Linked DNA regions of Homo sapiens: regions 2 and 3 are each linked to region 1. The links come from fine-mapping of genetic effects on gene expression. A gene starts in region 1. Each other region holds a variant in brackets. All regions are shown on one strand. Distances are from middle to middle. Region 1 holds the start of MTERF4 (mitochondrial transcription termination factor 4). Region 2 overlaps SNED1 (sushi, nidogen and EGF like domains 1). Region 3 overlaps ANO7 (anoctamin 7).

The links.
Region 2: its variant is fine-mapped to the expression of MTERF4 in tibial nerve (GTEx, PIP above 0.99). The same link has a PIP of 0.9 or more in fibroblasts, left ventricle, prefrontal cortex, subcutaneous fat, sun-exposed skin and tibial artery.
Region 3: its variant is fine-mapped to the expression of MTERF4 in ovary (GTEx, PIP above 0.99).

The regions. Positions count from the first base shown.
Region 1 is chr2:241,098,152-241,106,326 of GRCh38, forward strand. MTERF4 (mitochondrial transcription termination factor 4) reads right to left here and starts at 4,136. Exons shown (of 4, transcript NM_182501.4): 1 at 4,102-4,136; 2 at 1,245-1,743. The coding sequence starts at 4,122. PASK (PAS domain containing serine/threonine kinase) reads right to left here. Exons shown (of 18, transcript NM_015148.4): 18 at 7,948-8,175. RefSeq lists enhancers at 3,383-3,922, 3,923-4,462.
Region 2 is chr2:241,069,912-241,078,086 of GRCh38, forward strand. SNED1 (sushi, nidogen and EGF like domains 1) reads left to right here. Exons shown (of 32, transcript NM_001080437.3): 24 at 9-290; 25 at 1,665-1,809; 26 at 1,885-1,967; 27 at 3,355-3,453. It also overlaps a transcript of MTERF4 not described here. Among named protein-coding and RNA genes, the nearest start is that of SNED1-AS1, 9.9 kb to the left of the region's middle. RefSeq lists an enhancer at 3,531-4,047. The variant G/A (reference allele first, on the strand shown) is at 3,403.
Region 3 is chr2:241,203,849-241,212,023 of GRCh38, forward strand. ANO7 (anoctamin 7) reads left to right here. Exons shown (of 25, transcript NM_001370694.2): 10 at 1,017-1,107; 11 at 3,726-3,822; 12 at 5,437-5,580; 13 at 5,650-5,787; 14 at 6,447-6,545; 15 at 6,620-6,722. Among named protein-coding and RNA genes, the nearest start is that of ANO7, 19 kb to the left of the region's middle. The variant G/C (reference allele first, on the strand shown) is at 4,614.

The sequences.
Region 1 (8,175 bases):
CATTTGAGTTAGTGATTATCTTAATATGTGAGGAATTTCAGTTTAGGTTTATCTTCATTTCTTAAGGCTGTGCTGAGTTTGCTAATTAATCACCACCACACATAATATATTTAGACTTTTAGATTACACTGTAAGAATCTGTTAAGAAAAATATACAAGGCTACCTTTTTCTTATCTTCTAGAGAAGGAGGCCTGTAGAGATGCTGTGAAATGGTGGATCCTAAACCTTCTACCACTGCCTCAAAAAACATCTTACCAGGAAGAGTCAATAATGCAAAGAAATAATAGTGGAACTCCTCTGGTCAAAGTGGGTAAGGGTCCTTGGAGACCCCCAACTCCTCCAGAAGGCCCTTAAAGAGATTCAAGGAACTTTGAGCATCCTTGAGATGTGAATATTGTTGGGGGCAGGAGTGGGGGATAAATAGAAGGGAAGGCCACTCCACGAGTATCCCAGGAACCTGGCCAGATCTCTCATGTTCCAGAGTAAATCTAAACACTCGACTAGAATCTAAGTCTTTACAAGAGATGTTGGTTTGACATCACATCACAGAGACAGAGCACTAAGACCATTTCATGTTGATTTAAACATCAAATGCTATATGTACACATATTTATCAACATCACATTATCAGCATCAACCCACTGAACACATACCATATGCCCACCACTGCACTAGGTGCTGAAGATCCCACGGTGAACAAGGCAGACAAGAGTCTCTGCCCTGGCACTCAATTTTTTCTTCTAGTCTTAACTCCTCCTCCTTCCCTCTCAAAATGTATTCTGCACAGAAAGCCACTCCTATTCCTCACCTCCAAGCCAAATTATACAGTCCTCTCCAGGAACACTGACATACTCAGAAACCTCCCCTAATCCATCTCACCTTAGGCTGCTCTTTCCCCACCTCTGGCTCCTGTCACACTATATAAAATCTTTTTTTTTTTTTTTGAGACAGCCTTGCTGTCACCCAGGCTGGAGTGCAGTGGCGCCATCTCAGCTCACTGCAACCTCCGCCTCCTGGGTTCAAGCGATTTTCATGCCTCAGCCTCCCAAGTAGCTGGAATTACAGGTGCGTGCCACCAAGCCCAGCTAATTTTTCTATTTTTAGTTGAGTCAGGGTTTCACCATGTTGGCCAGGCTGATCTTGAACCCCTGACCTCAAGTGATCTGCCTGCCTCGGCCTCCCAAAGATCTGGGATTACAGGCATGAGCCACCGCACCCAGCCAAAATCTGCAACTTCTTGTACCTTCTCCAAGCCCAAGCTTTTGCAGGTAACTGGAGCGCTTCCTCATTTGCATAATAGGCAGTTTCAATAACTGGGGACTTTTCTTCAAGACCACACACACAGGCTCTGGATTCAGACCCAAGAGAATAAATTCTGAAATGATGTCCAGCAACTGTTGAAGACTGGCACCTCGCCGTACACTGAGCAATTCATTAATATGGGCATTGCTGAAACCCATGTCCAGGAGGGAACTCATGACCCTCTCTAGCTCCAAGGACCCTTGTACCACAGGAGTCCCCTGCTTCTCAAGGAGGCACTGAACAAGATTCCTCCTGCACTCTGGTTCCTGCACATAGTTATTGGATCTAACACAAGATAACTCCTCAATGACCCCTCCATTGGAGGCTGTAGTCAGTTTGCGCAACAAAGAAGCTGTCGTCCTTCTCTGTTCTCCAAGATGAGGAGTCTGCCTAGCCATACAGGCCCAGGTGAGGGGGATCAGGCGGTGCCAATCAAGGACCTGTAAGACACAGGACCAAAAGACAATTAATTCCTCACTATTCCAGTGTAATGGACACCATAAGACTTCTGAGCCAGAGTACTTACTGCCTTGGTTCCACACAAACATACAATTTTTATAAGCAATCTGCAAAATCCTATCTGAACTTAAGCCTACAGAGAAGGAAGCTCACAAAGAACAGGGTATTTCAAGGCCACAGAGATGGGAGTCAAGCAGGTACAATATTGTTAGCTTTTGCAGCTTTAAGGATGGGAGCAGGGACATGGAGGAAGAGGGAAAAACTATTTCTAGGCCACCTGGTCATGTGTGCCAGAAAAGTCTGGACCTCAGACTACTTTCCAGATTCATGTTCTTAAATTCATTCCACGAGAAGAATCTTGTGGGATACAGAGTTGGCCCTTGAACAACAAGGGTTTGAACTGCTTGGATCCACTTATATGTGGATTTTCTTCCGCCTCTGCCACCCTTGAGACACCAAGACCAAACTCTCCTTCACCTCCTCTTCAGCCTAAAGACCTTATGAGGATCTACTTCCTCTTAATGAATAGTAAATACATTTTCTCTTAGGATTTTCTTTTTGTTTTTTGAGACGGGGGTCTCACTCTGTTGCCCAGGCTGGAGTGCAGTGGTGCAATCATGGCTCACTGCAGCCTTGACTTCCCCAGGCTGAGGTAATCCTCCCACCTCAGCCTTCTGAGTAGCTGGGACTACAGGTGCACACTACACCCTGCTAATTTTTGTATTTTTTGTAGAGACGGGGTTTTGCCCTTATGATTTTCTGAATAACGTTTTCTTTTCTCTAGCTTACTTTAAGAATACAGAATGCAATATATATATATACAAGATATGTGTTAACTGTTTATGTTGTCGGTAAGGCTTCCAGTCATGAGTAGGCTATTAGTAGTTGAGTTTTGGAGGAGTCAAACGTTATACACTGATTTTCAACTGGTGTGGGGGCGGTCTGGTGCCCCTAACCCCTGTGTTGTTCAAGGGTCACAGTAATTAGTCAACTTGCATACACAATTCCAGTTGACCTCAAAAGTCTTCAGTGGTTCAGGCTGGTGCTTAACAAACTATGCACAAATCATCCAGGCACTCTAAGCCAGCAGTCTTCAACGTTTTTGGCACCAGGGACTGGCTTCATGGAAGACAATTTTTCCACAGACTGGTGAGGGGTTTCAGGATGATTCAAGCATATTACATTTGTTGTGCACTTTATTTCTGTTATTTTCACGTTGTAATATAAGATGAAATAATTATACAACTCACCATAATGTAGAATCACTGGGAGCCCTGAGCTTGTTTTCCTACAACCAGGAGGTGCCATCTGGGGTTGATGGGAAACAGTGACAGATCATCGGGCATCAGATTCTCATAAGGAGCGCAACCTGGACCCCTCAAAGGCGCAGTTCACAATAGGGTTCGCGCTCCAGTGAGAATCTAAGGCGGCTGGTCTGACAGGAGGCGGAGCTCAGGCGGTAATGCCAGCGAAGGGAGCGGCTGTAAATACAGTCTGGCTGGCTCACTTGCCGCTCACCTCCTGCTGTGCAGCCTGGTTCCTAATAGGCAAGGGACGGTACCGGGGGTTGGGGAACCCCTGCTCTAAAACCTTCACATCGGTCCCAACCCCTTCTCCAGCGTCATCGATTGTCGCCCTGGGGCCACCCTGCCAAGCCCAAGCTCTGGCTGCTCTCCAGCCTCCCCTGTCCAGATGCTCCCTCCGCCAGGAACACCTGGCAGTCGCTGGGGTCAGCGGGCGCGGCCCGTGGAACTGGGCTCAAGCCTAAAGACCTCTATGCTGATTCCGCTTCCTCTTAATGAAAAGTACATGTTATCTTCCTTGTGAAGTTCAAACTCTTGTTCAACAGTCAACTCAGGCCGGGCGCGGTGGCTCACGCCTGTAATCCCAGCACTTTGGGAGTTCGAGGCGGGTGGATCACCTGAGGCCAGAAGTTACAGACCAGACTGGCCAACACGGTGAAACCCCGTCTCTACTAAAAATACAAAAATTAGCCAGGCATGGTGGCGGGCGCCTGTAATCCCAGCTACTTGGGAGGCTGAAGCAGTAGAATTGCTTGAACCCGGGAGGCGGAGGTTGCAGTGAGCCGAGATCGCGCCATTGCACTCCAGCCTGGAGACAGAGCGAGACTTTGTCTCAAAAAAAAAAAATGTCAACTCTATATCCCACAATAATTGAGCAGAGCCACGGGTCCAGGATGCCAAAACCAGGTCAGCGTGCACGGACCTCCGGGAGGGCTCCACGACCTGGCCGTGAAACACTCGGCGGCCGCGGTTCCTCTGCGTCGCTGCCCGCCCGCCTGCGACCCGGAGAAGCCCGCGCGCCCAGCTCGAGCTTACCTGACGGCCGAACGCAGCCATAGCGCGGAGAAGATGGCAGCAGTTACGGCGCCGGAAGCAGCGGTCCTCCCCCGTCCTTCACTTCCGGCCCCCGGTCCGTCACCGACGCCGTTCCCAGCGCCAGCGCGGTGTGGTGGATCGTGATTCCGGCCCGGAGCTGTGCTGAGCGTTCACGGCCCCGCGGGGCTCAGGTGTCCCGGGGCCGCCCCTTAGAAAGCCGGAAGGCCGGAGTCGCGCCCGTCACCGTGCCGCCGCCTCTGCCGCGGCCTCAGCCTTCGGGGGCCTCGGTGTCCGGTTGTTCCCGTTGCACTGCCGTGTCCCGTTTCGCAGAGCTCTGGGCCGCGTGAACGAATGGGTCGTCCTGGCCCATACTTGTGTTTCAGATGACCTGAGAATTCCTCTCAAGAGTACAGGTAGAGGGGAACTGGTTCCTTGCTTCGGGAACTTCACCCGAGAGCGCAGAAATCCTTCCCGAGGCAGGAAAAATGGATTCCGTTCCATGTAGAGATATTTAAGATTTTATTGTGTAAAAATCTGTATTCAGCGTGAACACCGGGGCCACCTACGCACAAAAAGAAGTCTTTACCGCTTTTCTTTCTTTTTACTCTCAGCCAGTGGAAGATGAGAATTTGCCGTTTTTAAAAGACCCAAGTAAAATGACAGGAATTACGGCACATTTCCCTTTATAAGCAAGAGCCTTCCCAACTTCGAGGTCTGGTTCCCTCTTAGGATGAAATATAGTAAAGTTTTAGCCCAATGTGTATTCATTCTTAAATTTCCTCTCTCGACCTAAGAGCGTAGGCATCTTTCACAAGGTGATGCTTGTGAAGAATAAAAAGGTGTGCTTTCTCAGCTGCCTAAATCCTGCCACCAAAGCCTTAATTTATAAGCATTTCTTGTTTTATCTACTTCATTCTGGACTGACATAAAGGATTTGATTCTTGCATGGGCACACATTTACATATCTGCTTTGCGCCAGGCATGGAGTGGGGTGCCAAACAATTTATGTAAAACTGTCTTTTGACAAAAGGATTATGTCAAAGAAAAGGAAGGTTCTAATCCGTGTAGAAACTAAAGAATTGGTTGCTTTGGCAGAGTGCAGTGGCCCACGCCTGTAATCCCAGCACTGTGAGAGGCTGAGGTGGGGGGGATTGCCTGGGCTCAGGAGTTCAAGACCAACCTGAGCAACATAGGAAAATCCTGTCTCTACAAAAAATAAAAAATTAGCCGGGAGTAGTGGCGTGCACCTGTAGTCCCAGCTACTCAGGAGCCTGAAGTGGGAGGATCACTTGAGTCCAGGAGGTTGAGGCTGCAGTGAGCCATGATTGCACCACTGCACTCCAGCCTGCGTAACAGAGCAAGACCTTGTCTCAAAAAACAAAAGGAAAAAAAAAATTGGTTGCCTTTGTTGTTTTTTATAATGTAATTTTCTTCTCAAAATACTCAACTGTCAACATCTCACAATAAATTGTGTTAATGCTACACCAAAAGCCTAAGAAAATCCCATGAGCCACCCCAACTCCCTGGAAAGAATCAAGGAACCTGAACAGTTTGTCTAGCTCTAGAAATAAAATGACAGCTGGGACATGGGGATTACTATGAAAAATTGACATGAGCCCGGGTGTGGTGGCTCACGCCTGTAATCCCAGCACTTTGGGAGGCCGAGGTGGGCAGATCACCTGAGGTCAGGGGTTTGAGACCAGCCTGGAAAACATGGTGAAACCCCATCTCTACTAAAAATACAAAAATTAGCCAGGCATGGTGGTGGGCACCTGTAGTGTCAGCTACTCAGGAGGCTGAGGCAGGAGAATCACTTGAACCTGGGAGGCGGAGGTTGCAGTGAGCCAAGATCACGCCATTGTACTGCAGCCTGGGCAACAAAAGCGAAAGTACTTCTCAAAAAAAAAAAAAAAAAATTTGACATCACCTTCAGTCTTGTGTGAAAACTTTGCTCTCTCGAACCATACTTTAAAAATATGCAGTGGGTTGGGCACGGTGGCTCATGCTTGTAATCCCAGCACTTTGAGAGGCTGAGATGGGTGGATCACCTGAGGTCAGGAGTTCGAGACCAGCCTGGCCAATATAGTGAAACCCTGCCTCTACTAAAAATACAAAAATTAGCCAGGTAACGTGATAACGCACACTTGTAATCCCAGCTACTCGGGAGGCTGAGGCAGGAGAATTGCTTGAACCCAGGGAACGGAGGTTGCAGTGAGCCGAGATTGCACCATTGCACTCCAGCCTGGGTGACAGAGCAAGATTCCATCTTAAAAAAAAAAAAAAAAATGGAGTGGAAAAATTGTCAGCCTCAGCCTCAGAACTTTCCTCTCTGGGTTCTTTCTGCAAAGAACGTTTGCAAAATACCAGACCTTCCACTGCCATGAAGTCAGATGAGCTTTAATTATTTTTTCTTATAAAGAAGTAACAGTTCTTAGAAAGCTCAGACTATGCATTCTCAACCCATTAAACACCTGTCTGCAAACACCATTGTGGCCGAACGCAGTGGCTCATGCCTGTAATCCCAACATTTTGGGAGGCCGAGGCGGGCGGATCATGAGGTCAGGAGTTTGAGACCAGCCTGGCCAACATAGTGAAACCTCGTCTCTACTAAAAATACAAAAATTTAGCCAGGCGTGGTGGTGGGCACCTGTAATCCCAGCTACTTGGGAGGCTGAGGCAGAATTGCTTGAACCTGGGAGGCGGAGGTTGCAGTGAGCTGAGATCGCACCATTGCACTCCAGCCCAGGCGACAGTATAAGACTCTGTCTCTAAATAAATAAACAAACAAACAAACACCATTCTATAACATCCTCTGTGTTATAAGCACCATAAACACTACAAGGTAGGGGTTCTTAAAACATCAGAAAACTCTTTGAATTCTGAAGAGTGAACATCACTGACTTTAATACACACCTGTAAAACCCTTGTACCTTGAATGTCCCTGATAGAGGAGGGTCCTCCCCCACCAACTCCATCAGTCACTTGTGGTGGCAGCGAGGCTCAGGCAGCACTTTCTGAAGAAAGGGATGGCAATAGCCCATATCCTACTAGATGGGACTAAAATTAACTCTGATCATCCCAAAACAGTTGAGTGCCTCCTAAATAACCACTAGAAATAGCTCAGAACCACGCAGGAGGCAGCCTGGCTCCCAGGCAGCTTCCAGAGGGTTCTGGGCAGGAGTCTCAGAATGTGGAAAAACCGTCTGCAAGTGATGACATGTGGGAAAAGGGTAGGGGTTTAGGTTTTTGGTTTTTTTCCTACTGTCTCAGCAGGGGAAAAAAATGAAAGGTTCTGCTCTCACCTCTAGCTATTCCCTCCTCTCTAACACAGACATGAAATAAAACAATCCTAAGTACTTGACCTAGCCAAGTCTGTCTGAGGGGGATGGACTGGAGTCTAAGGGAGGGAAGCAGCCAGTTGAGTATCTGACAAACACCCTGGAACCTGAGCAGCTCGGAGGAATACAGGGCTGGAGCCCCTCACACAGACCAGAGGTGGGGGCTGGGCCAGGAAGCCCCTCATGTGGACAGAGGTGGGAGCTGGCTGGCCATGGGATATTTGGGGACTGCTGGCAGTGAGCCAGCCACGTGTTTGACAGCAGAGTCTTGCTACAGACAGAAGGGAGGTCCCTGAGGAAGCCACCCTCCCCCGTCTTACCAGATGGAGCAAGCTTCAGAGCCCTAGGCCCACCCCTGGCAGGGCCTGCTTGTAAAAGGAACCCCAGAATGGCCAAGGCTAGACTTCTCTCCAACTGTGGCAAGTGGGGTGCACACATGGAAAAATGAGGAAACCAGGTATTTCTCACACTTAGCACACGGGAACAGTTCACAACATCCAAGTCAGGATAACTGTTTACTAACAAAGGTGCTTTAATTTGAAAAGCATTTGAGGAAATAAATTAATGAAATAGTCTGGCCATTTGACTAACCAGTTCTACAAATTTCACATATCCGTCACTCAGATGAGCATATACCAAGTCAGAGGAAACAAAACATGCACATATACAAAAGTAGAAAGAGAAAACACTCATGCCTTCAGAAGTTCACAAATTAAAAGCCCTTTAATAATATAAA
Region 2 (8,175 bases), 28 kb before region 1:
TCATCCAGGGCCCCTGCCTCCAGCAAACCTGACCGCCGCCCGAGTCACTGCCACCTCTGCCCACGTGGTCTGGGATGCCCCGACTCCAGGCAGCTTGCTGGAGGCTTATGTCATCAATGTGACCACCAGCCAGAGCACCAAGAGCCGCTATGTCCCCAACGGGAAGCTGGCGTCCTACACGGTGCGCGACCTGCTGCCGGGACGGCGGTACCAGCTCTCTGTGATAGCAGTGCAGAGCACGGAGCTCGGGCCGCAGCACAGCGAGCCCGCCCACCTCTACATCATCACCTGTGAGTGCCGTGGGCCCTGCGCGTGGGCGGGGCCAGTGTTTGCCAGCCCTCCACCCTGTTCAGGACTGACCTGGCCCTGCAGGGGCCTGGGATGCCAGGCAGACAGCCTAGAAACAGGACCGTGTTAGCAGGGGAGGAGTCTGTGTATGAAAGTGGAGGCTTTTCAAACCCACAAGGAAAGGAAGGACTCATGGGCAGGTGGCACCAACAACTGGAATAATAAGCACATTGAGCCTCAGTTTGTGCCGGACCCTCCCGTAGATCCCAGACAGGCCGAGCATCACCTGAAAACGGGTGCCGAGGGTGGCAGCGAGGAGGAAGCCCCCGGAAGTGGCCTGCATTGCAGCCCAGGCCTGACCCACGAAGAGCCACTGGACACAGACAGACAAAGGGCCAGGAGGCCACAGGCAGGGGCCTGCAAGGCAGGCAGGAATGCTGGGGAGCAGAGGCACAGGGCAGAAGCCGCTCGGAGTGGGGACAGATGCTCCGAAGGGCTCAGGTCTGCTCCCAAGTGCAGGGGTGGCCCTTCCAGGCTCCACCAGGGTCCCGAACGCCCCACTTAGGTCTTCCAAGTTCACAGAAGGAGCAGTGGGAAAATGCAGGAGCAGAACAGGGAGAGAAGAAAGAGACGGAGACAAGCAGGGAGGAGAGGCCACGGCGGGACAGAGCAGAGCAGTGCGCGGCTCCCCAGGGAAGAGAGGGCTCTGACCCCAGGCTCCTCCCCAACCCGTGAGGCTGTGCTGGGGACACGAAGTGCATAAGCTTGCCGAGTTCTCAGACCCAACCCTGCCACCCCCACCAGCTTGGGGCCAAGCCCACCAGCCAGGCAGAAGGGGCAGGCTGGGACCTCTGTGAGCCGGCGTCAGAGTGAGAGGGAGAGGGAAGGGGAAGGAGGGCCCAGCCTGGGAGGCTGAAGGACGCTGTTAGGGTGACAGATGCACCCTCACTCTCAGGGCACATGCTGGGGTGGGGACTCCCAGCTGAAGCGTCCCATCAGGAGGCCACTGGGGAGAAGCACTGTGTCTCCAGGGCAGCCTGGGACCTGAGTCCGAGCCCGAGTGCCCAGCCCCTTGAGAACTTGAGTGACGGGCAGGGGCCTAGACTCAGCCCTGCCTCATGACTCCCAGGCCAGTGCACGCCTGTGTCATGGCTGCGCATGGCTCCTCCTCAGAAGGGATGCGGCGGGTGGGCTGGAAGGGAACCCAGGGCATCTGGGGAAGCCACAAGCACCTTGGATGACCACGGCCCACGCACATGCCCCCCTTCCCTTCTCCAAGCACGGCTGAGTGTGAGGGGCACCACCCATGCCACAGGGGCAGGGACAGGAGCAGAGGGCAGCCCCAGACCAGCCCCTTCCTCCTGCCTGCTCTGCAGCCCCCAGGGATGGCGCTGACAGACGCTGGCACCAGGGAGGACACCACCCTCGGGTGCTCAAGAACAGACCGCCCCCGGCGCGCCTGCCGGAGCTGCGCCTGCTCAATGACCACAGCGCCCCCGAGACCCCCACCCAGCCCCCCAGGTACATGCCCCACCCATCGGCCCCATCGCCCGAGGCGGCGCTCGGACTGTGGTGACCCTCCCACCCTCTCTGCAGGTTCTCGGAGCTTGTGGACGGCAGAGGAAGAGTGAGCGCCAGGTTCGGTGGCTCACCCAGCAAAGCAGCCACCGTGAGATCACGTGAGTGCCAGGGCCTCCCCACCCACCTTGGTGGCCCACCCTCGTCCTCACTGCCACTCTCACCAGGTCCTGTCCCCTACATGATGAGCCCACCCCCACCGCCAGCGCAGTCTCCAGCCAGTGACCCCCACCCCGACTGTGCACAAGGCGCGGGGCTCGTGGGCCGCCGGCAGCATGCACCTCCATGGCAGGAGGGGCAGCTCGTGAGGGCCTCACGTCAGTGTGTGGGCTGGAGGCGCAGGCTGCTGGTAGGGCACGCAAGAGAAGATAAACATTTTAGAAGCAGGTCTGAGACATTACAGCAGCTTTATTTGCCAAAGTAGGGCTCTGAGCTTTGTTTTAGTAAACCATGGGCAGGAGGCCATGAGGGTCTAACCCGCCACTCCGAGTGTGGTCCGGCAAATCCTCCGCCACTGTCCTGGCAAGATCTTCCCGGTGGCAGCAAGGCTGATGGGCCCAGGTGCCTTGGGCCCTTCCCACCGGGTTTACTGGGTGAGTGCCGCTCTGGGAATCTGCCTGTGATTCTGACACAGAAGCCCTGAGACATGTTGGCAGGAGTGAGGCAGGCGCGACCCTGCCCCAGAGGGGACCTCTCTGGCCCTTGCCTCTCACCTGGAAGGCCAGGTGGTCATCCTCATGGAACTCCCCAACAGAGCCTAGTCACCAGTTTAATGAACACGCTCTGAGCAAAAACTCCTCAGGCAGAGGAGGGAGGGAAATGCAGCAAGGAGAGTGGCAAGCAGGGACCAGAGCCCTGGGGTCCCTGCCGCACGGTGAGCAGGGGAGAGAGCCCCCAGCAAGGTGTCTGAGGAGAGGGCAGGCAGCTGCCCGGGATGCCCAGTGGTGGGCAGGTGAGATCTGGAGTACAGAGGGGGGCCCGTTGTACTTGCAGCTATGGAAGCGGATATGAAGTGCCCGAGGGTGCGGTTGAGATCCCTGCATAAGAAGTGATGCAGTTGGGGGCGAGGGCATGAGGAAGGTCAGTACAGACTGAGGGCAGCTCAGAAAGAGCAGGGGGTGCCACAGCCTCCAAGAAGCAGGGGTGGAAGGAGAGGAATGCAGAATTTGACCCTAAGAAGAAAGCAACCGCATCAGCCGTGAGGATGGGGCCTCTCAGCATGATCAGTGGTGGCTGTCCCTGAAGCAGCTCTGAGGGGGCCCTGCAAGGGGAAGGCCGAGCCCCTCCAGAGGGTCAGCAGGAGGGTGAGGCCAGCCCTTCAGGGGAGGCAGCTCTGGGGCCGACAGGTGCTGGGGCCACGCAGGGAGCCTGGTCCCCACCAGGGACATCCGTGCTCCCTGAGATATAGAAGCACTCAAAAGGGTGGCCCCAGGACCATCCCGGGTGCAAAGCAGCTGCGCCGTGTGGTCACCGCCTGGCTTCTCCTAGAACCCACAGCCTCGGCGCAGCTCGAGAACATGGAGGAAGCCCCCAAGC[G/A]GGTCAGCCTGGCCCTCCAGCTCCCTGAACACGGCAGCAAGGACATCGGAAGTGAGTCAGCAGCGCTGGTGGGGACTTTGGGACTGACTGACTGCTCTCAGGGGCCTTAGAGGCTGCAGGCAGGAGGGACCACCCACGGTGAGGAATCAGGAGGCACAGAGCCTACCTGAGGGGAGGCTGAGCACCAGGCACCCCGGTGTGGGAAGATGGGGTGAAGCTACACCACCCAAGCAGTGGGACCCCACAGACGGGAACAGGCCAGGGGGCAGGACCCACCCAAACCACCCAGAGTCTGAGCTAGAGAGACTGGCTTTGATGCTGCCTCCCCTCCCCTCTCCTCCTTCGCCTCCACATGCAGCAGAGCCCACCCCAGCCCCTGCCTCTGGGCCCCTCACCCCTCACTTCTCCAAAGAGGAGCAGGCGGAGTCAGGATGGGAGAAGCAGAGGGAGCAGCCACTGGGCGAGCCCCAGCTTGAGGACTAGCTGGGCCCTGTGGACACTCAGGTTATGCAGGACCTGAACTGTCTCCTAGTCCGGGGCTCTGCCTCGTGAGGATCGAGGCCAGCACGTCCCTGCAGGGCACCAAGCATCTGCTGAGCACCTGCAGTAAGAGTTCCCAGACGCTCACGAGGCAGTTCCCCTTCGGGCAGCACCAATACATGTGTGTTCCTCACCCTGAGTCAGACTCTACCTTTCTCCTGGTTCTAATCCTTTGGGGCTGTGTCCTCTATGGACAGCTCTCCTAGCACCCGGTGACCTGTTCTCCCCTGAGTCATACCATAGACTCAGATTGGGATCACCCCTCAACCCAACCCCAAAGAAGTCCTAGTACTTGGTAAAGGTGTGAGCTGCTGAGCGTGGTCTCACCCGCAAGGCCTTGCCCCCAGCTTCTCAAGGACATGTGTACACATCAAGGGCACCTGCGGTGGGGTGTGTTTGCAAGTGGCGGTTTCGCTGAACCCTAAGTTCACCATCCCCCCCCCGCCCTCACCATACAAGGTCTGGACTTGCTGCTAGCCCCTGTGAGCACCAGGAGGACTGGTTTGTGCATCCGACGCAGAGAGTGAAGGATTCTCTTAATTCAGGTGTGGCCCATTCAGAGTGAAGACTCTCGTGTTGATCTTTAAGTGAACTAAAACAAACATTTCATCAGATGATTTGCATTATGTCAGCCCCTTTAAATACCAGGTGTTCATTTCCTAGAACTCAGAGATTGGAGGGGCGTGTGTTACCCTCCTGGGTCTCTTCAGCAGGAGAGATTCAAGATGACCCCCGGGCTGGCCCTGAGGTCACCACGGTCATGTGGTGTTTGCCAGCACGAGATGCTCATGCCCTGGTGGGTGCAAAATGATTTTAAGTGATAACATGAAAAGTAGACTCTTTAATGGCCCCTCGATGCGCAAAGCCAGTCATGATCTTTGGTTCATGTTGCACTCTCACGCTAGCTACCTTTTATTTAGTTATTAGCCTTTGAATAATGACTAAATCAAGAACCCAACCTATAAACTTGGATGTGAACGATACCTTCTATCTTGCCATCATACTCCCTGTTCTCTCCCCTCAGTTAACCATGATCCTGAACTTTGTGCCTAGAATTCCTTTGTTTTTTCAGAGTGGAAGGTGCGGGGAGTGATTCTATGGTACATATATGTATGGCAGAACAATAAGTGAGTTTTCTTTGCAAGATAATTATCTTGCCATGTGTGATCGTTAGACCTGTGTTTTCACTCCGCATTCTCGGACTGAGGTTGGCCCATGCGGTCTGGGCGGCTGCGGCTTATTCACACCTACTATTGAGCACAGAGTCCACTGAGTGAACTGACCGGCTCTTCTCCCCTCTCTGTGCAGAGAACATGTAGGTTGTGTTTGGTATGAGCAGTGCTGCAGTGGATGTTCCTGTACAGGTTTTCCAGTACGTGTGCGGGAGTGGAAAAGCTGGATCTAGGATGAGGATGTGTGAATGCCCAAATTACATGAGAACTAAGTCATTTTCTAAGAGGCGATAGCAGTCTGCGCTCCCTCCAGCAGTGATGAAGACATGCAGTGAATCCAGTCTCTCTAGAACTAGGTTTTGCCGGGTTTGCAGATCCTACAGGCAGAACGGGTGGGATGCACACCCCTGGGATCTGGGTTTGCATCTCCTGGGCACTGATGTGACTGCGCCTCTCCTCATGGGCATCCACCAAAGGTGTTTGCTTCTGTGAAATGCCTGATCACGCCTTTTGACTTTATGTTGGGTTATTTGTACTCTTTTTATTCATTTGTCAAAATTCTTATATGTTTTGATACTGATCCTTTGTCAGGTCTGTGTTCTGCAGGTATCTTCCTCCAGCCTCTGGCTTGTCCTTCCCTGTTCTTGGTGGTACTTCCTAATAGAGAAAAGTTCATAATCAAATTTATCAAGCATTAGTGGTTAACAAGTTGGGAGCCTTCTTTAAAAAATATCCTTCCCCACACCAAAGTTAGAAAGTTATTCATGTATATTTTTTTCACAAAGATGTAAAGTTTTGCTTTTGACCTGTAGGTCATTAATCTGTTAGACTGTGTGTGTGTGAGAAGTTGGGCTACAATTTCATTTTTTATGCATATGGGTAAACTGGATTTTTCATCTCTTCATGCTAAAAAGTCCCTTTTTCCCCCACTGTCAGTATCAAAATTCCACATATAAAAGTAGAATTCTGGCGGCGTCAATTTGATACATCTGTGCCAATACTGCCCTGTGTTCACTCTAACTTTGTAAGTCCTGGAACTGATTGGCAAAGTTCCTTTCCTTTACTCTTCATCTTCAGAAGTATCATTGCTACCCTTGGCCTTTTTTCTTCCACATATACACCTTCAAATCTAGTCACACTCTATGGAAAAGGCCTTTGAGATAATGATGACTGGGTGTGCATTCAATCCATTGACCATTTTTGTGAAAATTGACATCTTTAGGATAGTAAGTCTATATCCATGGACATGGGATGTCTCTCCATATATGACATTATGACTTATTTAATATCTTTCAGTAAAGTTTTATATGGAATTCAGACTTATTCCTAGGTATTTTATAGTTTGATACTATTATATAGTTTGATACTAGTATATACTTTAAAAGTTACTTTTCCTGATTATTTATTACTGGAGTATAGATATTTATTTGACCTTTGCATACTGACCTTATAGCCAACCATCTTGCCAAACTCTCCTATTCTTGTCATACATTCTTTGGGGTTTTCTATATATATATAAAATCATATCCTTTTAAAGATTAATTGTTTGCCTTTTAAAACTCAGACCTGCTCACACCTGTAATCCCAGCACTTTGGGAGGCCTAGGCAGGTGAATCACTTGAGGCCAGGAAGGAGTTCAAGACTAGCCTGGCCAACATGGTGAAACCTGTTGGTGTGGTAATGGGTTAAGGATAGGCATTTAGATCAGTGGAAAAGAACTGAGAGTCCAGGGCCGGGCGCGGGGGCTCACGCCTGTAATCCGTGGAAAAGAACTGAGAGTCCAGGGCCGGGCGCAGTGGCTCAGGCCTGTAATCCCAGCACTTTGGGAGGCCGAGGCGGGCGGATCACCAGGTCAGGAGATCGAGACCATGGTGAAACCCCGTCTCTACTAAAAATACAAAAAATTAGCTGGGCATGGTGGCGGGCGCCTGTGGTCCCAGCTACTCCGGAGGCTGAGGCAGGAGAATGGCGTGAACCCGGGAGGTGGAGCTTGCAGTGAGCTGAGATTGCGCCACTGCACTCCAGCCTGGGCGACAGAGCGAGACTCCGTCTCAAAAAAAAAAAAAAAGAATTGAGAGTCTGGAAATAAACCACACGTCAATGGCCAACTGACTTCTACAAGGGGGCTGAAACCATTCAATGTGGAAAGAATAGTCTCAGCAAATGGTGCTGGGACAGCTGGATATCCACATGCAAAAAGAATGAGGCCGGAGCCCTCGTACCATATACCTCATAACACAAATTACCACAAATTGACCAACAACCTAAATGTTAGGAGCTAAAACCAAAACTCTTAGAAGAAAACATAGGAGTAAATCTTCATGACCTTCGATCATGAGGGTCCTTAGGCTCAACAATAAAAGTATGAGCAACAACAAAAATCTATATATAAACTACTCTTCATCAAAACTTAAAACTTCTGTGCCTCAAAGGATGCCATCAAGGAAGTGACATGACAACCTGTGGAGTGGAGGAAACATGCAAATCATACCTGATCAGAGACCCGCGTCTAAAATAAAGAGCTCTGACAACTGAACAATAAAAAGACAAACAACCCAGTTCAGACATGGGCAAATCATACCTGATCAGAGACCCATATCTAAAATAAAGAGCTCTGACAACTAAACAATAAAAAGACAACCCAATTCAGACAGGGGCAAAGGACCTAAAAAGACATTTCTGCAAGGAAGATATGCAAATGGCCAGTAATCACACCGAAAAGATCCTTGACATCATTAGTCAGCAGGGAAATGCACATCAAAACCACTAGGATGGCGGGAATTAAAAAGTCAGATAATAATAAGCATTGGTGAGGACGTGGAGAGATCAGAACCCTCTACGCTGCTGGTGGGACTGTAAAGTGGTACAGCTGCTCTGGAAAACAGTCTGGCAGTTCCTTAAAGGATTAAACCAATAGTTACCGCATGACCCAGTAATTGCACTCCTAGGTATATACCCAAGAGAAATGAAAACCTATGTCCACATGAGGTCCTGTACACAAATATTTATAGCAGCACAGCACAAAAGCCAGAAAGTAGAAACCACCAAAGTGTCAATCAAC
Region 3 (8,175 bases), 110 kb after region 1:
CCAGGCCAAGCCTCTCATCTCCTCCAAGCAGGCCATCTGCCCCAGGCAACCCCAGAGCTGTTCCTCCTGGGTCCTGGCTGCCCTCACCCCACTCAGCTCTTGGCACCCTCCCTTCCCCATCCTGGGTCAGACCCAACCCCTTCATTCTGTGCCCCAGAACTTCCAAAGCCCTTTCTCATCCGCACACACAGCCCCACCGTGGACCCAGACAATAGAGCCAGCCAGGGCAGCGGGCGGGGCCGGCAGGCATGGAAGGGCAGCCGGGGCACAGCATCGGGGCAGAGGGACAGCTCCTGTGTGCCAGGACTCACCCGGCCATCTCAGGACCTGGAGCAGCAACCCTGGGACAGCACGGCCAGGCTGGGGGCTTCTGGGGGCAAGCAGGGCCAGGGCTGGATCTGGGCTCCAGGCAGACTTGCGTTTCACAGCAGTCACTTTGGCCAGCAGAGAGTCAGGCAGGAGACAGGACACCAGGCCTGGGACTGGACTAGCCCTATGGGAGGCAGTGGGGGTACATGCTGAGGGCCTGGGGTAACTGAGGGATTGCGGCTGTGGTCAGATGAGGCAGGGGCCAGGGTGGGGGTTGGGTGGTGGGGAGGGAGGTACCCGGAATGACTCGTGGTTTCCCTGGGGCTGGAACACGGGTGGGCCCACAGCTCTGTGGTGGGCAGGATGTAGAGGGACTTCTCTGTCCGTCCCGGGCAGGTTGGTTGGAGTGAGCTGGCTGAGGAGAAGGCATCCAGAGGTGGAGAGCCTGGTGGGCTGGAGCCCCAGCAGCACTGGTGTTGGGGTCAATGTGGTAGGGGTGTCCAGAGTCTAGGGCAGAGGCCCAGGAGGGTGGGCCGTGCCAGAGCTGCCAGGGAGAGCTGTGTACCTCTTGGCCTCCTCACATAGGGCCCCAGCCCCCAAGCTGGGCTGAGGGTGGTCCCTAGGGGACAAGCATGGCTGTGCAGACCCCTACCTGGGGCCCCCAAGCCTGGGTTCCTGATGGTGGACCCCTGCCATCCTCTCTACAGGGTTTTACACAGGCTGGCTCCTGCCAGCGGCAGTGGTGGGCACACTGGTGTTCCTGGTGGGCTGCTTCCTGGTGTTCTCAGACATACCCACGTGAGTGTTCCCTCTCCGCAGCTCTGGGGCCTGGTGCTGGGCCTCCAGATGGGTGTGGGGCGGGGGGACCCCTAGGTGCTAGGTCCTGTGCAGACAGCTGGTGCTTGAGGTGATTGAGGTGTGAGGTGAGCACATGCCTGTCTTCAGGAGTGTCACAGAGGGCCTTGTGGACATGGCTGAAAGGCTGGCAGGTGGACAGGAGTGCTCCCAGGCTGACAGGTGGACAGGAGTGCTCCCAGGCTGACAGGTGGACAGGAGTGCTCCCAAACTGACAGGTGGTCAGGAGCACTCCCAGACTGACAGGCAGACGGGGCGCTCCCAGGCTGACAGGTAGTCAGGAGTGCTCCCAGGCTGGCACCGGTGGATAGGAGTGCTCCCAGGCTGACAGGTGGTCAGGAGTGCTCCCAGGCTGATAGGTGGACAGGAGTGCTCCCAGGCTGACAGGTAGCTAGGACTGCTCTCAGGCTGAAACAGGTAGACAGGTGTGCTCTCAGGCTGACACAGGTGGATAAGAGTGCTCCAAGGCTGACACAGGTGGACAGGAGTGCTCCCAGTCTGACAGGTGGACAGGAGTGCTCCAAGGCTGACACAGGTGGACAGGAGTGCTCCCAGTCTGACAGGTGGACAGGAGTGCTCCCAGGCTGACACAGGTGGACAGGAGTGCTCCCAGCCTGACACAGGTGGGCAGGAGTGCTCCCAGCCTGACACAGGTGGACAGGAGTGCTCCAAGGCTGACACAGGTGGACAGGAGTGTTCCCAGTCTGACAAGTGGACAGGAGTGCTCCCAGGCTGACAGGTGGACAGGAGTGCTCCCAGTCTGACAGGTGGACAGGAGTGCTCCCAGTCTGACAGGTGGACAGGAGTGCTCCCAGGCTGACAGGTGGGCAGGAGTGCTCCCAGCCTGACACAGGTGGGCAGGAGTGCTACCAGGCTGACACAGGTGGACAGGAGTGCTCCCAGGCTGACATAGGTGGACAGGAGTGCTCCCAGCCTGACAGGTGGACAGGAGTGCTCCCAGGCTGACACAGGTGGACAGGAGTGCTCCCAGCCTGACACAGGTGGGCAGGAGTGCTCCCAGCCTGACACAGGTGGACAGGAGTGCTCCAAGGCTGACAGGTGGACAGGAGTGCTCCCAGGTTGACACAAGTGGACAGGAGTGCTCCCAGTCTGACAGGTGGACAGGAGTGCTCCCAGGCTGACAGCTGGGCAGGAATGCTCCCAGCCTGACACAGGTGGGCAGGAGTGCTCCCAGGCTGACACAGGTGGACAGGAGTGCTCCCAGGCTGACAGGTGGACAGGAGTGCTCCCAGGCTGACACAGGTAGACAGGAGTGCTCCCAGTCTGACAGGTGGACAGGAGTGCTCCCAGGCTGACAGGTGGACAGGAGTGCTCCCAGGCTGACACAGGTGGTCAGGAGTGCTCCCAGTCTGACAGGTGGACAGGAGTGCTCCCAGGCTGACACAGGTGGACAGGAGTGCTCCCAGCCTGACACAGGTGGGCAGGAGTGCTCCCAGCCTGACACAGGTGGACAGGAGTGCTCCAAGGCTGACACAGGTGGACAGGAGTGTTCCCAGTCTGACAAGTGGACAGGAGTGCTCCCAGGCTGACAGGTGGACAGGAGTGCTCCCAGTCTGACAGGTGGACAGGAGTGCTCCCAGGCTGACAGGTGGACAGGAGTGCTCCCAGGCTGACAGGTGGGCAGGAGTGCTCCCAGCCAGACACAGGTGGGCAGGAGTGCTACCAGGCTGACACAGGTGGACAGGAGTGCTCCCAGGCTGACATAGGTGGACAGGAGTGCTCCCAGCCTGACAGGTGGACAGGAGTGCTCCCAGGCTGACACAGGTGGACAGGAGTGCTCCCAGCCTGACACAGGTGGGCAGGAGTGCTCCCAGCCTGACACAGGTGGACAGGAGTGCTCCAAGGCTGACAGGTGGACAGGAGTGCTCCCAGGTTGACACAAGTGGACAGGAGTGCTCCCAGTCTGACAGGTGGACAGGAGTGCTCCCAGGCTGACAGGTGGGCAGGAATGCTCCCAGCCTGACACAGGTGGGCAGGAGTGCTCCCAGGCTGACACAGGTGGACAGGAGTGCTCCCAGGCTGACAGGTGGACAGGAGTGCTCCCAGGCTGACACAGGTAGACAGGAGTGCTCCCAGTCTGACAGGTGGACAGGAGTGCTCCCAGGCTGACAGGTGGACAGGAGTGCTCCCAGGCTGACACAGGTGGTCAGGAGTGCTCCCAGTCTGACAGGTGGACAGGAGTGCTCCCAGGCTGACACAGGTGGACAGGAGTGTTCCAAGGCTGACAGATGGGCAGGAGTGCTCCCATGCTAATTTTATTGGCACTCTTGTTTATTATAATAATGTAAGCTTTCTTATAATATTAATAAATGGGCTTGTGTTTTAGTTTATCATGGAACTGAAATTCAGAAACTTAACTCAGACATTGTCATGGCATATATTTTAAAACAACTATTTTTTTTAAGAAATGCTGGGCCTGGCAAAGGCAGTGGTGGACAGAGAGGACAAGGGAGAGAGAGGACAAGGGAGGCGCCTGGCTGGGAGGAGCAAGCAGCCCCCCTCCCCCATTAGCTCCCACCCCTCCGCTCCATGCCTTGCAGGCAGGAACTGTGTGGCAGCAAGGACAGCTTCGAGATGTGCCCACTTTGCCTCGACTGCCCTTTCTGGCTGCTCTCCAGCGCCTGTGCCCTGGCCCAGGTACGAGAAGAGGTGGGTGGGGTAAGGGATTTGAGAGTCGGGGATGAGGAGGGCAGCTCCCCTTGTCCTGGTCCTGACTCTGCCTGCACCAGCCCCTGTCCTGCTTGTCACCAGCTAAAGGCAGAACGCTCCATGAGCTCCTTAACCTTTGTTCTCTTGCCTGGAACTGGGGTTACACCCGGCACACACCTCCCAGCACTTGGCAGAGTGGCCCATGTTAGTGCTTCCCACTTGAGGACACCCCACACCAGGACTCTAGCTCTGGCACTCTGGGGGCACCTGGCCCTTGGCTCCAAGGCGGACAAACCCTGGAGACCCCAGGGCACAGGCAAAACCAAAGGTTTTGAGCAGAATTCCCAACTTACAAGACCTGGGCGGGAGGCTCCTGCAGTCTCTGAGCCCCACTGTCCCCCCTCCCGCCTGGCATGCTTCCTGGGTCTGTCCACCTTCCCAGGGGCCTCAGGGCCTCGCTTGTACCCCACATGCACTGGACCCAGAGCCCTTGGCACTACTGGTGGGCCAGACGCCGTTTGACCTCACTTCTGGGAATCCACTTGGATGTTTCCTAGGACCACAAATGGGGACTTAAAACAGCAGAAGCTTATTCTCACAGGCCCGGGGCCAGAGTCCAGAATCAAGCTGTTGGCAGGCTTGGCCACTTCTGGGGACTCAGCCCCAGGCCTCTCTCCTGGTTTCTGGTGCTGCTGGCAGTCCTTGGTCCTCCCTGGCTTGTGGCCGCCTCATTCCAATCTCTGCTTCCATCTCCACCTGGCCTTCCCTTCTGTGTCTGC[G/C]TGCTGGTTCCTCTTCTCCCCTCTTGTAAGGGTTTGTCCAGAGTACTCTCATCTGGAGATCCTTACCTTACATCTACAAAGGCCCTTATTCAAATAAGATTACATTCTGAGGTTCCCAACGAACATATCTTTTGGGGGCCAGAATTCAACTCACTACAGGTCATCCTCTGGTTCCAAAACTTCATGTCCATCCCACGTGCAAAATACACTCACCTCATCCCAGCATCCTCCAAAGTCTCAACCTCTTACAGCATTAACTCTAGGTCCAAAACCTCATGAAAATATCAGCTCAGAAAGTCCCAAATCGCATCCTCAAAGTCAGGTGTGGGTGAGACCTGGGTGTGAGCCGTCCTGAGGCAAAATTCCTCTCCCTCTGTGGGTCTGTGCTTCCAAAACACAGTCAGGGGGCTGGGCACGGTGGCTCACGCCTGTAATCCCAGCACTTTGGGAGGCCAAGGCGGGTGGATCACAAGGTCAGAAGATCGAGACCATCCTGGCTAACACGGTGAAACCTCGTCTCTACTAAAAATACAAAAATTTAGCCGGGCGTGGTGGCGGGCGCCTGTAGTCCCAGCTACTTGGGAGGCTGAGGCAGGAGAATGGCGTGAACCCGGGAGGCGAAGCGTGCAGTGAGCCGAGATCGCGCCACTGCACTCCAGCCTGGGTGACAGAGCCAGACTCCGTCTCAAGCAAACAAACAAAAAATACACAGTCGGGGGATGTGTGTGGGATGCACACTCCCATTCCAGGAGGAAGGAACACTGGAAGGAACAAGGGGCCTCCAGTCCCAAGCAAGTCTGGACGCCCCCGCTCCCTGCCACAGGCCGGCCGGCTGTTCGACCACGGCGGCACCGTGTTCTTCAGCTTGTTCATGGCACTGTGGGCCGTGCTGCTGCTGGAGTACTGGAAGCGGAAGAGCGCCACGCTGGCCTACCGCTGGGACTGCTCTGACTACGAGGACACTGAGGTGAGCCACCCCCGCTGGACCACGGTCACACCCGGCGAGGGCCGCCACTGAGCACCGGCTCCCTTCCAGGAGAGGCCTCGGCCCCAGTTTGCCGCCTCAGCCCCCATGACAGCCCCGAACCCCATCACGGGTGAGGACGAGCCCTACTTCCCTGAGAGGAGCCGCGCGCGCCGCATGCTGGCCGGCTCTGTGGTGATCGTGGTGATGGTATGCGGTCCCCCTGCCCTCCGCTCACGCCTCCATCCTCCTGCACCATGTGGGGTGGTTTTGTCCCCCATCTCACCTTGGTGCCGTGGCCAGATGCCTCCTCTGGGCACAGAACCCTCACTCCCCGCAGAGAGGCCCCCATGTGCCCGGGCTCGGCCGTGGGGTCCCGGCTGAGAGCAGGTGTGAGTCATACGGAGGGCCTGGGAGGGTCTCCCCGTGGGTGCGGGCATGGGGCATTTTTCAAGCAAGGGGGTTGGTTTCAAGGAAAAGAGAGGCGGGCACCCCAGCAGGGCCATTCACTGCACCCTGTCTTGCCTTCCAGCCAAAGGGGCTTCCTAATAGGACCTCTCACTCCCCTGCCAAGATGTCAGGAATCCCCAATTCCTGGGATGGGATGGCTCTCCAACACTCACAGTGGCTGCCTTGACACCCAGATGTGGCCCAGCCTCTAACTCTAACCCCACCCCACCTCTGCCTGAGCAACTCATCAGGAAGGACATAGCCTGGGAGCACAGCCGGGGCTGGAGGCAGGGGCCTTCCTAGAGGTGGCAGTGCTGGGGCCAGCAGTGGACTAGAAGAGCTGTCGGGGGCCATGGCCTGAGGGTGCTGGGGTGCCCAAGACACCGTGAAGGGTCTCACGGGCCTCCCTGCCCCCGCAGGTGGCCGTGGTGGTCATGTGCCTCGTGTCTATCATCCTGTACCGTGCCATCATGGCCATCGTGGTGTCCAGGTCGGGCAACACCCTTCTCGCAGCCTGGGTGAGCCTCTGCTGCCTGCCTCGGGGGGCCCTGAGCGGCCCCTCATCCGGCTCTGACGGCCTGTCTCCCGTTAGGCCTCTCGCATCGCCAGCCTCACGGGGTCTGTAGTGAACCTCGTCTTCATCCTCATCCTCTCCAAGATCTATGTATCCCTGGCCCACGTCCTGACACGATGGGGTGAGTGGGCTGAGGCCGGCCAGGCACTGACCAGGGGCCCACCCTGCCGGCCGCCAGCCAGAACGTGACTTTCTCACTCACTGACACACATGGCCCTCATTTCTATTTCTTTCTTCTTTTTTCTTTTGAGACAGGATCTCACTCTGTTGCCCAAGCTGGAGTGCACTGGCACGATCATGGCTCACTGTAGCCTTGACCTCCCAGGCTCAAGGGATCCTCCTGCCTCAGCCTCCTCAGTACCTGGACCACTGTGCCCAGCTGAAATTTTTTTTTTTTTTGATAGAGACAGGGGTCTCACTGTGTGGCTCAGGCTGGTCTCGAGCTCCTGGCCTCAAGGGATCCTCCTGCCTAGGCCTCTCAAAGTGCTGGGATTACAGGCATGAGCCACAGCACCTGGTTTTCTTTCTCTTATTTTTTGTTTTTGGCACCCCAGGTGGGACACAAACAATCCCTGGGTTAGGAAGCCAGTGCTCCCTATTTCTAAATGTGGTACAGATTGGAGTTGTCTGAGCCTCCCCAGAGGCCCCCTTAAAAGAGCAGTGAGCAGGGCCTTCCTGGAGATAAAAGACCCTGGGGGCACTCCAGCACCCAAAGAGTTCTCACCCCTCCACAGGGCCCCCCTCCAGGCTGCAAGGTCCCCCAGGTGGGAGATGTCCCTCTAGGATAGGGCCGCTGAGCCTCTGTTGGGTGGTGTGGGGTATCGGCTGCTGGGCTGGGCAGCCACCTCTCAGTTCTTCCCTCCCCCTTCCTCTCCCATCGGTCTTTTTCTCTGTCTCATTTCCTGAGGACAAACACTTACGACCAACCTATTCATTCCATAAGCTGCTGCCTCTCACTAGCCCTGCTCTAGCCCTGGGGGTGAATAGTCTTGAACAAAAGCTGGCAGCCCCACCCTGGAGCCCAGGTTCTAGGAGAGGGGACAGAACTGGCTGCCTGCACAGCTACAGAGAATGGGAGAGGGCTTAAGTGCTGAGGAGGAAGTGCCTCCTGGTGGGTGGCCAGGGGAAGGTGGGTGTCAGGGAAAGACCTTTGCAGGTGGCAGGTGTCTCAGGGAGAGGTTCCTGGTTCTGGATGGCCAAGGGTAGGGCTCTGAGGGGAGCCACCCATTTGTTTCTGCAACTGTGGGGTTGCTGTGGGGTGTTGAGCCTCCCTCTTTCCCTCCTGTAACCTTCAGCCTTTGATGCTCCTGCCTCCGGCACCTGCACCGGAGCCCAGTCCGCTGCGCAGCCTTGGCACCGAGCCTCTATTCTGTTTCTCTGACCCATCCCCTGACCACTCACCCGTGTGCACCACATTCATTATTAGTGTTGGGATATAGGGTATTATCAATTTTCCCAACTCCTGTTAATCAACATGTTTTTGGGTGACTTCGGAAATGTCACACTTTGTCTCCTTCTTTTAAATATCTGGATGATATGGCCTTTTCCTCACCCGTGTGTGGCAAGGTGGTCCT